Linked DNA regions of Homo sapiens: regions 1, 2 and 3 are each reported to be linked to region 4. The links are microRNA targets in miRTarBase. Many come from high-throughput screens and were not tested one by one. Region 4 holds a microRNA gene; each other region holds the end of a gene's coding sequence.
Evidence for each region. The annotated mature microRNA hsa-miR-579-3p reads UUCAUUUGGUAUAAACCGCGAUU and lies in region 4 at 1,098-1,120, opposite strand. An mRNA with a match to its seed (bases 2 to 7 or 8) in the 3' UTR can be bound and repressed. Matches are read on the target gene's strand: a 7mer-m8 pairs with bases 2 to 8, a 7mer-A1 pairs with bases 2 to 7 and ends in A, and an 8mer does both.

Region 1: miRTarBase lists RO60 as a target of hsa-miR-579-3p. The part of its 3' UTR that is shown has no 7-base or 8-base seed match.
Region 2: the mRNA of SPTY2D1 is a reported target of hsa-miR-579-3p. Seed matches in the 3' UTR shown: 7mer-m8 at 379-385.
Region 3: miRTarBase lists UFL1 as a target of hsa-miR-579-3p. Seed matches in the 3' UTR shown: 7mer-A1 at 875-881, 8mer at 1,435-1,442 and 7mer-m8 at 1,915-1,921.

Annotation. Positions count from the first base shown.
Region 1 is chr1:193,084,345-193,087,595 of GRCh38, reverse strand. It overlaps RO60 (Ro60, Y RNA binding protein), which reads right to left. Exons shown (of 9, transcript NM_001173524.2): 9 at 1-3,017. The coding sequence ends at 2,865. Among named protein-coding and RNA genes, the nearest start is that of GLRX2, 19 kb to the left of the region's middle.
Region 2 is chr11:18,607,024-18,610,274 of GRCh38, forward strand. SPTY2D1 (SPT2 chromatin protein domain containing 1) reads right to left here. Exons shown (of 6, transcript NM_194285.3): 6 at 1-2,931. The coding sequence ends at 2,838. It also overlaps a transcript of MISFA not described here. Among named protein-coding and RNA genes, the nearest start is that of MISFA, 8.9 kb to the left of the region's middle. RefSeq lists a silencer at 1,419-1,713.
Region 3 is chr6:96,553,090-96,556,337 of GRCh38, forward strand. It overlaps UFL1 (UFM1 specific ligase 1), which reads left to right. Exons shown (of 19, transcript NM_015323.5): 19 at 196-2,187. The coding sequence ends at 414. Among named protein-coding and RNA genes, the nearest start is that of FHL5, 8.4 kb to the right of the region's middle.
Region 4 is chr5:32,393,295-32,396,294 of GRCh38, forward strand. MIR579 (microRNA 579) reads right to left here and starts at 1,181; the gene lies at 1,084-1,181. ZFR (zinc finger RNA binding protein) reads right to left here. Exons shown (of 20, transcript NM_016107.5): 11 at 1,865-2,010.

The DNA.
Region 1 (3,251 bases), not on the chromosome of region 4:
ACAGTAAGTTAGATAAAGCAAAGGAGGTGTCAAAGGGTAACACTAAATTCCATTCACTAGCATCTTGCCTCACTAACACTCTCATAAGATAGATTACTAAATAATATAAGTATTAATAAATGGAATTTCCAAGAACTTTCAACTAATAAAGGGTGGGATTATAAGATTAGTTTTTGTTTTACTAATTACAACTATATCCTGGAACTATTTACATACTACCTAGGAAATAAAGTTTGTTTATTCTTGCAGGATTGTTTTTAAAAGCAGTATTTTCCCAAATATTAATTTAACAGTAATCCTAAAAGTAACTCAGGAAATAAAAAACTTATCACTTCAGTACATTTTATTCATAATGAGGTAAAGTTTTTGTTTTTTCTCTATATATGTAGATATATATAGCAACACAGGTTAATTGTGCTTGAGGATTCCTATGAATTACAAGATTATACATGTTCCCATTCTATTTTTCTACTCCTAAAGCAATCGTATATACATTATTTCCTAATAACTCAATAAGGTAAAAGTCTTAAATAATTTTATTTTATCCTCTACTCTTCTGAGACCATGTATTCCCATGTTGTGGGGAAATAAATTCTGGCACAGGAATGAAGAGACCAAGATTTCTAGGTTATAGTACTTCAAAATCACACTCTGTCTTGGACCTCAGCTCTCTAACAAAAATTTAAAAAATTAGCTTTTAGGTTTCTAAGGTTTCTTCCAGCTCAAATATGCCATGATTTGAAAAGTTACCTTCTGTGGTAGCTTCTCCTACTTATCCTTTCTTTCTTAAATGTTACCCTAGTCCATTTAATTAGACCTACCTAAATACTTCAGAAAGGTCATATCCATCCAATCTTGTATCCTTGATGGATTTAATATTAACTTATAGATATATTTGTCTAAAAGTATTATGGAAATAGTACACAACTGAAGGTAATGCACTTTTGTACTATATTCTATTTAACATTTCTATTAGGAATAAAATGATCATGTTATAATTTTTAAGATCTTGGGTTTACTTAAACAATTCAATAACTATTACGTAATTCTATTAGTTTCTTTAAACTTTAAATTCAATCTGAACGTAATATTTTAATGTGTCAAAAGTAGCTAATATATTCAGTTCAATGCTTGACAGGGTTAAAAACGTGAACAACATCAGAAGCAATGCATGTCTGGAGTGGGGGTGAGGGTGCTATGAGCTTTGCTGAACAAAAATATCTCAGGTAAATCACACTTAAAAACTGATACCAGTTGCCTTGAAGGAATGGGTACATATCAAAACCAGCATTAATATGTCAAATAAATTTGAAAGGAATATTTTCTTATTCCCAGAGCCCAAATTTCACATAAAACAGAAGAAAATATGTACAGAAATCCTCAGACTACTAAAGTCCCCCTTTCCCAAAAAACATAAACCCTCTAACCCCCAAGCACCTAAAAGGCTATAATTTACATTAACTACAGTTTGACTTTTCACATAACAGCGAGAAGGACCTTACAAATCCTCAGTAAATCTTCAATTAATATTTAGAGAACAACAGATACGCAAACAGGTTTTATGTGTAAGCTACCTTAGACGGCCATAATAAAATTATGAGCAAAGATAATGGCATTTCAACAGATTGCTTTAATGTTAAACCTCACAATGAAGGATACTTGCTCAATAAAATAATGCACTTTAGTGTAATGAAAAGTTTAATACATACAAATAATACTGAAAAAAATTCCTAGTGACTGGCTAGCTGGTAATATGCTACTCAAAAATTGCCTTTCAAACCTAAAGGACCTAGATTGCTTTATTATTTGTTTACACTATCAAAGAAGAATATTTTGCCACAAAATGAATAATGGACAAAGAGGCCATTGACATGTATACTTTTAAAAATATTAACTAAAAAAATAGTTAAAAGTAAAAAATTTTATTTTAAAAGTAAGGAAAAAGCTAAACTGGTTATAGTTGAGATTTTAATTGTTATACTTTGTGAATGAGGGGGAGTTAAGCGCTTGAAACATTTTATATTATTTACACTTAAGAGTATGAAAAACAGTGTGAGACTACATCTGGCTATGTTATTATAATTCAGAGGAAATCATTATCAAGTCACACCCCTTGTAGCAATAAAATATAACAAAGCAAAAAAAAAAAAGCAAACCAAATAGAATCCCTCAGCCAACACAAACTTAGTCTATTCTTAGGGGTTGCCATGATGTTTCTGATTAATGGTAACATATTCCACAAGTGCAAATAAAACATCAGAAATAAAATATCTTTTTCACTGAATAAGAAAGCTGTTATTTGTGTGATCTTAGTAAAACTCTGAAAGGAATTTGTAAAACTCATTCATAATTTAATCAAATGCCTTAGTTTTTTTTTTTACCCCCTTGGTATAAAAGTTTACAGATGAGTTTCATATTTCATCACAGTTATATGGTCTAGTGCATTTCAGAGTATTTGGACATTATCAAAGCTGTCCTTTCCCAATGAAAACATTTAAGAAAACGTTAAGCACTTCTCAAGTAACATGATGTGGAATTACACTTTTTGCTCTTACCTCTTTTAGGTACACACGTATTATTCAACAAAGCAAAACTATTTTACAGTGTCTGTTAACAAAAAGTTCTCTATTAGATAGAGGAAACTACAGTATCCTGAAGCTATTTCCCCAAGAGCTAGTTTAGTAGATAGACCTTTGGGCCCATCTTATTTTTCCTTCTTTTTTTTTTTTCAGTAAGGTAACTTTCCATTATGCACATACTATACCATCATCATTCATTGGGTGGAGATTAGCTGGGAAGTAGCTGTATATTTTTAGTGAGATCACTGATGGCAATGGATCTCTGGATCGTGCTGCTGCTTATGGTTAAATCATATCTAATGTGAAATTTCGAATTACATCCAGAGCTCCAGTATCAAAGCCGCACATATCCAACATGCCTCTATCATCTGGGTCTGCAATGGTGAAACCATTTGATGTCATTCCACAAACAATCAATTTAGCTGGAATATCCATTTTCTGTAGAAAAAGACCAAAATACATATTAAAAACATAAATGTAAGGAAATGCAAAATACCTCCAAAATTAAAACACTTTAACATTTCTCTACCAGAGCTTTTTAAATACAAAGTCATTTTTTTGCGGGGGTCAATCTTTTAAGGCTAGAATATGGGAGTTTTAGAAGAAGGGACAATAAAATTGTATAAGAATCTGCCTGAAATTTCTACTTCTCTCTTCAATTACTTTACTTGT
Region 2 (3,251 bases), not on the chromosome of region 4:
CTAATTTTTTTATTTTTAGTAGAGACGGGGTCTCACACCATGTTGGCCAGGCTGGTCTCGAACTCCTGGTCTCAAGTGATCCGCCCGCCTCGGCCTCCCAAAGTGCTGGGATTACAGGCTTGAGCCACCATGCCCGGCCAGACTTACTTTTTTGTTAACGGTCTTTGAACCTTTTCACGGCACACATGTAAGGCCGCCTGTGACATGTGGTACCCTGGCCTCCAACTGGACACAACTGCATTTATAGTTTAGCGAAAATACAAAGTTCTGAAAGTAGCCTTAAAAGAAGTGCCCTTTGCTTTGACATAGCAATATCAAAAGCAAGTGGGACTGTGCAATCAGAGCCATGAGTTTTATGAAAACTACTTTCCTTTCACATCATTTGTTAGAGAATGCCACACCCATGATCATGTAACATTATTACAATCATGAAATATTACTACATTCGTGATTAACATTACCCAAAAGGCACATCTTCAAATGTTGAATTAAGAAAATCCAAAAATCAAAACAGTAGAGAATACATTAAAAATCAAGCATTTAATTTGTAAACCTTAATGAAATAACAGCCTACTCCAGTTTCTTCAAAGGTTTGTGAGCTTTTTATAAGAGTGGTCAGGAAGTGCAGAAAAACAACATGGAAGACAGGATTTGGAAACAAGGCCAAAATTTAAAAGACTTAACCTTTTTTTTCTTTTAAATGAGCCACAGAAGTGCTCTTTTATAATGTTGACGCAAATCAACATTTATATTATAGAAATGCACTCAGAAGTAACAGACACACAAGGTTAAAACCTGATTCTTCCCACTAAGTTCTGGAAATTTATTCTAACATAATGGTGCCTTTCTGTACAAAGAACTGTACCATATCATAAATTTACTGCTAGTAAACTTTAAGCCACCAGAAATCTTTCAGCTGTGACAAGCACTTGATTGTAATGACAGATTTCAGAGTCTGAATACTGAAAAATATATATATCCAATAAAAAATTTTTGAAGGGGGAATAAAAGCACATAAATGGCAGCAGAGGAATTGATGTTCTAAGCCTGTTTTATTACATGGGACATCACACTACCCTTAATTTCACTGAAGGTATCTGAAATGGGTGAGATGAAATCAATAGGATTTTCTGCTACCATTGTAACAGTTCTATATGTAGTTACAAAGGGTGTTATTCCTAGTGATGATGACACCTTTCATGGGATTCAACTTAAAAATTAAATCCTTGCACTTTCAAAGTTTGAAACTCAATTCAAAATGAGTCCGTCTTAAAAGCCTGGCTCATATGGTCCCATTAAGGGAGGCTAACAATGGTAATCTATAATACCCAAACTTGAAGAATAAAGACTTTATGGATAAAAAGGAATAAACCAAAATATTTGGGCTGTTGAAGTATAAGGGCCTGTTGTAGGACAATCCCTCCTACTTCCTAATCCCCCCCATACAATGGCTTAAGATAGCCAAAACGTTTATTGTAGAACGTTTATTATTCCTACAAGCTTATGTCTCACTTCCCCTAAGCCTCTGTACTTACAGTCAAGGACAAATGCTCTCTAGCATCATATCTCATTTTCTGTTGCTGACAGTTCTTGAGACTTGGCTTCCTTCCAGCATGATCCTAAGTCAGCCTGATTGGAACTGCTTGGACTTGAAGGTTAAGGGCTATTAAGTCCATATTTATGACTTTAAAAAGGGTAAAAATGAGTTTCCACAGCTCAGTAAAATAACGATAACAGGGAACATCCCTTCCTACCTGGGGAAAAAAATCTCTTCACAGTGCATAGTTTGAAATCAAAGTGCAATATGGGCAAAAAGAGAAGGTGGTGCTCTCGATACCATAAATTTAGTTTTTGGTTTTCTGCCATTAATATTTGCTAACAAATTCAAGCTAAAAAATGAAGTCATTAATGTCAAGAGGTATGAGGGCACCTTGGGATTTCAAAATATCTTTATGATGGGGGAGGGGAGGAGGGGAGAGCCTCACATGTTACTTCCTTATTTTATAAACTATTACTCTTTCAAATCTAATGTTTGAATAAAATATTTTTTCTTCGATATAAAAATGAATTTTTTTAGATAAAAATCAATCAGCACAGTGACCTTGTCTTACACTAAAGCCAACATAACAGTAAATCTGAAAGGAAAACTTAGAAAAGAATATTATACTGTTATAACCTGTATTTTAACTTGAAAATTTTTTCATTAATTCCTAGCCACCTAAATTAATGAGTAAGAATGCTCAGCATCCAATCCATGAATACAGAATTTATTCTACTTTGTACTTCAAAGTCACAGGATGACATCCATATGATAGTTATAAATTCTACTCTACATTTTCAAGTTCTCAATCCATAGATTAGGACAAGTCACTTTATTGCTGGCAACATTCATGGAAGGTCCAGGTTTCTCATAAAAAGACTAAGTTTGATTGGGAGCAGGGCAGTGCCCTACTCACAGATCAGCAGAAGAATTACAGAAATCAAGAGACAACCTTTTTTTTCCTTTCAAAGTAGCAAAGGAACAATAAAAGATTGGCTGACTGGTGAGTGGCCCCACATTAGAGTGCATAGCTCATCAGGATCAAGGCTGGCATCTGTGAACAGTTAACTTCATAAGAGCACAAGTGGGCATTATATCATCTGCATTACAGATTTCACCCTGGAAAATATCTGAAAATATTTTATGCTCAAATGACAGCCTGCAAATGACAGTATGCATTCCTTCTCCTTGAGTACCCAAGTATAAATCTAAAATGATAAGGGGGCTTCTTCAGTCTGAAGGCAGGAAATCCTTGCAGCAGAGCAGCTCTAGAATTTCACAAAAATAAAAGCAGCAGCTAACGCCTCTTCAGCTTCTTGGCCCTTCGACGTTGCATTTCTTCTTCTTCACGTCTCATTTCCTCTAAGTCCTCTTGCATACCCAGTCTTAAGCTGCCAAAGAATTTTTAAAGGGTATTTGTCAATATACATGAGATGACCACTTTCCTTAAAAAGAATGAAAATTCCAACTGGGAGCTCACATGGATTGTGCTGATGCTCTCAAAATGCCTCAAGGCTTTACCACTGAAAACAAACTAGCAGGGATATTTTTTTACCAGGGGCCACAGACTCAAATTGTCGTGGGAAAAAGAACTCACACACCACAAAAACCTTACTATTTCCATTAAAATAATAAAATATAGGTTTATCTCAATAGCTTTTAAAAATAAACAGCAAGAAGCATTTATTCATTAACTAACATTCTATTCTTG
Region 3 (3,248 bases), not on the chromosome of region 4:
TTTGCATTCATGTTTTATCTCTCCTAAATTGTACACTCCTTGAGAGCAGAAACTGCTAGATTAGACTTGCTACTTACATGGCCAGTTTTTTGTAAAGATGAGGACCTTCAATGTGTATTAGTTGAAGAAATTCTACTTTATCTGTTCCACAAAAAGATAAATTGTGTTGATTAACTTTTCTTTCCCTTTTCACAGGATCAGCATGCTCTTTTGGTAAAGTATCAAGGTTTGGTTGTAAAGCAGCTAGTCAGTCAAAGTAAGAAGACTGGGCAGGGAGATTATCCCTTGAATAATGAATTAGACAAAGAACAAGAAGATGTTGCCAGTACTACTCGTAAAGAGCTTCAAGAACTTTCTTCATCCATTAAAGACCTTGTTCTCAAATCTAGGAAATCATCTGTGACGGAAGAGTAATGATCTTAATTTACATTTGTCATATAGTAAGCATTTTCCCCCAAGGTTGAAGGTGAGTGGTCACAAAAAAGTAGTCACTATACAACTCCCCTCTCCCTGCAAAAACCACCTCATACACACACAATTCAGTTAAAACAGTAGTATTGTATTAAATGTAAATCTTAAAAAGATGTGAATTTTTGTAAATTGGGTTCTTCATGGAAGTTTTTTTCCACCTGATTTTCACACAAATACTATATGAAATTTTTCACATTATTTTCACATAATTTTAAAAATTACATATTTCAGGTTTGTTCTCTTTCCAAATGTTGAATGAAAAACAAATTTTCCAATCCATTTATCCCTGGGGAAGGATTCATTTGTTGCGAGTGCCAGTATACTTAAATGTATACTTTATATACATTTAAGCAGAAATTTAAAATGTGGTCTTTTTTTTTTAAAAGAAACACTTCTGTGTCAGAAATGAAAATAAATCATGTTTTTTATTTTTAAATAGAAAGCACTTCAAAACTAAAATACAGAAATTTACAAAAAAGAAAAATTATTACTAAGCCCTTGCTCTTATTTTTGGCAGAATAAACATTGATTTTGGTTGGGGCTGCAAGGATGCCTTTACAGGTGCACAAGAACGCTAGAGTGGCCCATGCATTGCTGTGTTCTCTTCTAAAACAAGCTACTAACAAGAGAGAGAACACATGCAATTTATTACCAGTAAGCATAAGTCATATTTAACATTGGAATAACTAAGCATTTTATACAAAGATTTTTCTTTGACCCAGTTTGCATTTGTACATTTTATTTTTTTAGTTCAACAGCTGCTCTGTCACATAATACTTTGTAAATACTAGTGTGAAAAACAGATAGGATGCCTTTTCCAGTGGTAGGAGCATCTGTAAGTGCATTTAAATCATTAGAAGCTTTTTTCCAAAACTAGAAACCCTTATTAAAAAATAGACATTTTTTTCTAAAGATTATTAGTTAAAAATAACTAAAAGAGTTCCTTAGAGTAATCATTTCAACCAAATGAATTTCAAGCAACAACTTACTTACTATTTATCAAAAAGGGATTTAATTATTTTGAATATAATTATAAATTAAATTTCAAATATTTAAAAATACTATTTTATATAATTCCTTATGACATTTTAAACTTTATATTTTAAAATATTTGAATACGAAAAGATCAGTCTACCTCTACTCCATTCTAGACAAAGTATTAATCCTTAGTGAAAGTAATTAATTAAATTGCCAACTTGGCATTATTATTAAACTTGATAGGAACGCAACATTAAATTTAAAAATGTTTTCCCGTGGGTAATTTTCTATTATATATTTTCATATGGGCAAAGGGAAAAAATGATAAATCCTCTGTAATCACAAACCCCAATTTCGTTTTGTTTATTCAGCTTCTAAAATATTGAACACCCAGACTTTTAATTCAACCTTTAAGAACCTTATCATTTATGTTTCAGTAGATATCAAAGTAATCCATGTTTGTGTCAAATGATCATAGAAAATAAATAGAAGAGACAGTGAAGCAAGTAAAAAGAAAAGCATTGTTTTAATTTGTTTGCATTAATTTTTTTCATTTGTCAAAATGCTTCTTTTGTTGCCACAGTAAAGAACAGTTTTTATTGTTTTGTAAGTAAAATTACGTAGCTGATTTTGTATGTAAAGATTAATTTCCATAATAAAAATTATTGTATGTTTACTGTGATCTTAATGGGCAGGGTTAAGAAAGTTATTTAAAATAAAGTTACCTATTCTACTAAATTTTATAGTACTTTGAAGCTTCTATTAATTAACACAAAGATTAATTGGTGCATATATTTTATATATATACATTTTGAATTCTCATTTTGAACATTATTAAAGGATTTTATTTTTCTTACACAAAAATAGTTCCAGAGCTCTCAGTGTCTTTCATTCCTTGAGAGTTTGCCATTCTCAAACCATTTTATCTTAGTAAATTATTTCTCAATTAACTAGATTTCAGCAAATGTGTAGCTGTATTCTTGCATATGCTAATTCCTGCTATTGCAGTCGGGGTAGAAATATTGGAAAATGTGCTCAGGTATTCATGTTCATGTGTTCCAGCTCTAGACTTACTTATGTGCTTTTCAAGAGTTAAGGAAACTCTTGGCCATCAGAAAGATCCGATGAAGAGTGGCATATAGTATCAAAATCACAGTGTATTTTGTGAAAAGACCTTAATGCTAAATTAGGACAATAAATGTAATAGTTGCTTAACCTGAATGTATTATTAGAGAAATGCTTTACTTAGACCAAAAAGCACCATGGATAAGGTCAGGGTGCAATGGTGATCTGAAGCTGGAATCAGACTGAAAAGGAACAGTTCATTCCTTCCTCAGAAATGTCACTAGAACCAGAGTGTATTAGTCCGTTTTCACGCTGCTAATAAAGACTACCCGAGACTGGGCAATTTACAAAAGAAAGAGGTTTATTGGACTTAAATTTCCATGTGGCTGGAGAGGCCTCACAATCATGGCAGAAGGTAAAAGGCAATGTCTCACATGATGCCAGACAAGGGAAGAGGAGCTTGTGCAGGGAAACTCCCCCTTTTAAATTCATCAGATCTCATGAGACTCATTCACTATCAAGAGAACAGAGCAGGAAAGACCTGCCCCCATAATTCAATCACCTCCCACCCTGTTCTTCCCATGACACGTAGGAATTGTGGGAGTCAGAATTCAAGATGAGATTTGAATGGGGACACAGCCAAAACATATCGTTCCATCCCTGGCCCCTCCCAAATCTCATGTCCTCACATTTCAAAACCAATCAATCATGCCTTCCCGACAGTCCCCAAAATC
Region 4 (3,000 bases):
AAATGTCATTTTAAAATGAATTAACAAATATTTAAATTTCTTAGTTTTAAATTTTTTTTTTTTTTTGAGACGGAGTTTTGTTCTTGTTGCCCAGGCTGGAGTATAATGGCGCGATCTCGCCTCACCGCAACCTCCTCTTCCCGGGTTCAAGCAATTCTCCTGCCTCAGCCTCCTGAGTAGCCGGAATTACAGGCATGCGCCACCACGCCGGCTAATTTTGTATTTTTAGTAGAGATGGGAATTTCTCCATGTTGGTCAGGCTGGTCTTGAATCCCGACCTCAGGTGATCCACCCACCTCAGCCTCCCAAAGTGTTGGGATTACAGGTATGAGCAACTGTGCCCGGCCAGTTTTAATTTTTAATACAGTAAGTCTTGACAGGTATAACCCACATAAGGACTCTTTGGAGTCCTTGATAATTGAGGATAAAGGATCCTGAGACCAAAAAGTTTGAGAACCACTGAGTTATGCTATCCAGTATAGGCAGACATGTGAGCATCCTTCAAACATTTCCATTTCCCATATTCTATTATTAGCAACTAACGATAATGTATGCAGTAATATCGCCTCAATAGGTTCACATACTTGGTGAAAGAAACAAAAAAGTGCCTCAAGGAGGGTCAAGATATTAATAACTATAATAAGGAAACACTGGAAACTACCTAAATATCTAAACAATAACAACAAGGATTGGTTATGAAGAAAATTTTACATATGCACAAAAATTACTATGTCCTCATGAAAAACAAAATAATCCGAATTTAGTTTTTAAAGTTGAAGGTATGTAAATGAAAAAAGTGGATTATGAAAATACGTGTATGGTATGTTTCTGCTAAAACTGTATTTTAAAAGTTATACAAAAATATTCACAGCAGCAATACTCATAATAGTCAAAATGTGGAAACAAGTTGCATGTCCATCAACTAATGAACGAATAAACAAAATGTGGTACATAAGGATGTATTATTCAGTATTATTTAGTCATAAAAGACAATGGAATACTGAAACATGTTACAATCTGGATGAACCATGAAAACACGCTAAGTGAACGATGCCAGACACAAAAGACCATAGACTGTAGTAAGTTGATGCAAAAATAATCGCGGTTTATACCAAATGAATTTATTAATTCAAATCGTCATCTGGCACAAACCGCGATTACTTTTGCATTAACCTAATATGACTCCATTTATATGAAATCTCTAGAATAGGCAAATCTATAGAGACAGAAAGGTTAGAGGTTGTCCAGGGCTGGGGCTGGGGGAGATACTAGGTATGTGGGACACATGGGGAATTATTGTTAATGGGTACGTGATTTCTTTTGAGGGTGATGAACTGTTCTAAATTGATTGTGGTGATTGTTACACAACTCTGTCACTGTATAAGTTTAGAAGATATGTTATATTTCAATAAAACTTAACATTTGTATCTTTATATATATATAAACAAATATTTGAAATATGTTTTCTCAATTCTCCTTCCCTGTAGCCACTAAAGTTTCTTTATGGACATTATTAACATGTAGAATCTATCAAATCTTATACTTCTATCAGGAAATGTATGTCTATTTTGCTTGTTTGAAACCGAGGCACTTATTTATAATATGAAACTATTTCTTCATATGTTTAATTTATAAAAGATGCCACTTAAACATATAACTCTAATACCAAGGCCACAGTAAAATATTAGTATAGCCAGTAACAATTTTAATGCATGTCTTTCCTAGACCTAGGATCTTCCTCAAGAGTGAAAATTGGAAGTAAATAAATCTGGATTGCTTTGAATGGGAGTCACATGCTCAGAATGGCTAAGTTTTTAAGAAAGGCTGAACCACTTACCAGGCTATTAAAAGTTAAAGATATTACCTCATTTCCATTCTCCAACGCTCCTCTTCTTCTCGTCTTCGCCAGTACTCCTCCTTCTGCATTTGCTTCCTCATTTTCTCTTCTTGAATCTTTCTTGCTCGAATACTAGGCTTTACTTCTACTTGCAAATCTGGATTTACTTTTTTCTATTAATATAAATAAGACATTTAAAAAACAGCAGCCCCAAAACAATCTACATGTATTTTTAATCATACAATTACACTTATTCTTTAATCACGGAGGCTTTTAGTTGCAAGTTTCCCACTAGAGAGTAAAATCAATATAATTAAGGTAAATCAGAGAAAAGATTCAAAATACATTAATAAAAATTATGTAAAAAGTATGTAACTTAGTGCTGACCAACAAAAAGTCATGAAATCCTTAGAAAAACTAATGGATATTTAATTTTACTTTACATTTGACCCTTGAACAACAGGGGTTTGAAGTATATGAATACACTTACATCTATGCTGCTGAGTTTCTTCTCCCTCTGCCACCCCTGAGAGAGTAAGACCAACCCCTCCTCTTCTTCCTCAGCCTACTCAACTTGAAGATGATGAGGATGAAGACCTTTATATGATGACCCACTTCCACTTAATGAATAGTAAATATTTTGATTTTCATATTTTCTCAATAATATTTTCTCTTCTCTAGCTTACTTTATTCTAAGAATACAGTATATATGAGATACATGACATACCAAAAATGTGTTAACATAAAAATAACTGTTTATGTTATCAGTAAGGCTTCTGGTCATTAGTAGGCTTTTAGAAGTTTTTAGGGAGTCAAAAGTTATAAGCAGCCTGGAGTCCCAGCACTTTGGGAGGCCAAGGAAGGCAGATCACTTGAGGCCAGGAGTTTCAGACTAGCCCGGCCAACATGGTGAAACGTTCTCTAGAAAAATACAAAAGCTAGCCAGGCATGGTGGCACATGCCTGTAGTCCCAGTTACTTGGGAGGCTGCGGTGGGAGGATCACTGGAGCCCGGGAGGTTGCAGTGAGCCATGTTCATGTCATCGTACTCCAGCCTGGGCAACAGAGCAAGGCCCTATCTCAAAAAAAAAAAAAAGGCAGGCAAATTTTTGACTGCGTGAGGGGCCCCTGACCTCCATGTTGTTCAAGGGTCAACTGTAACTG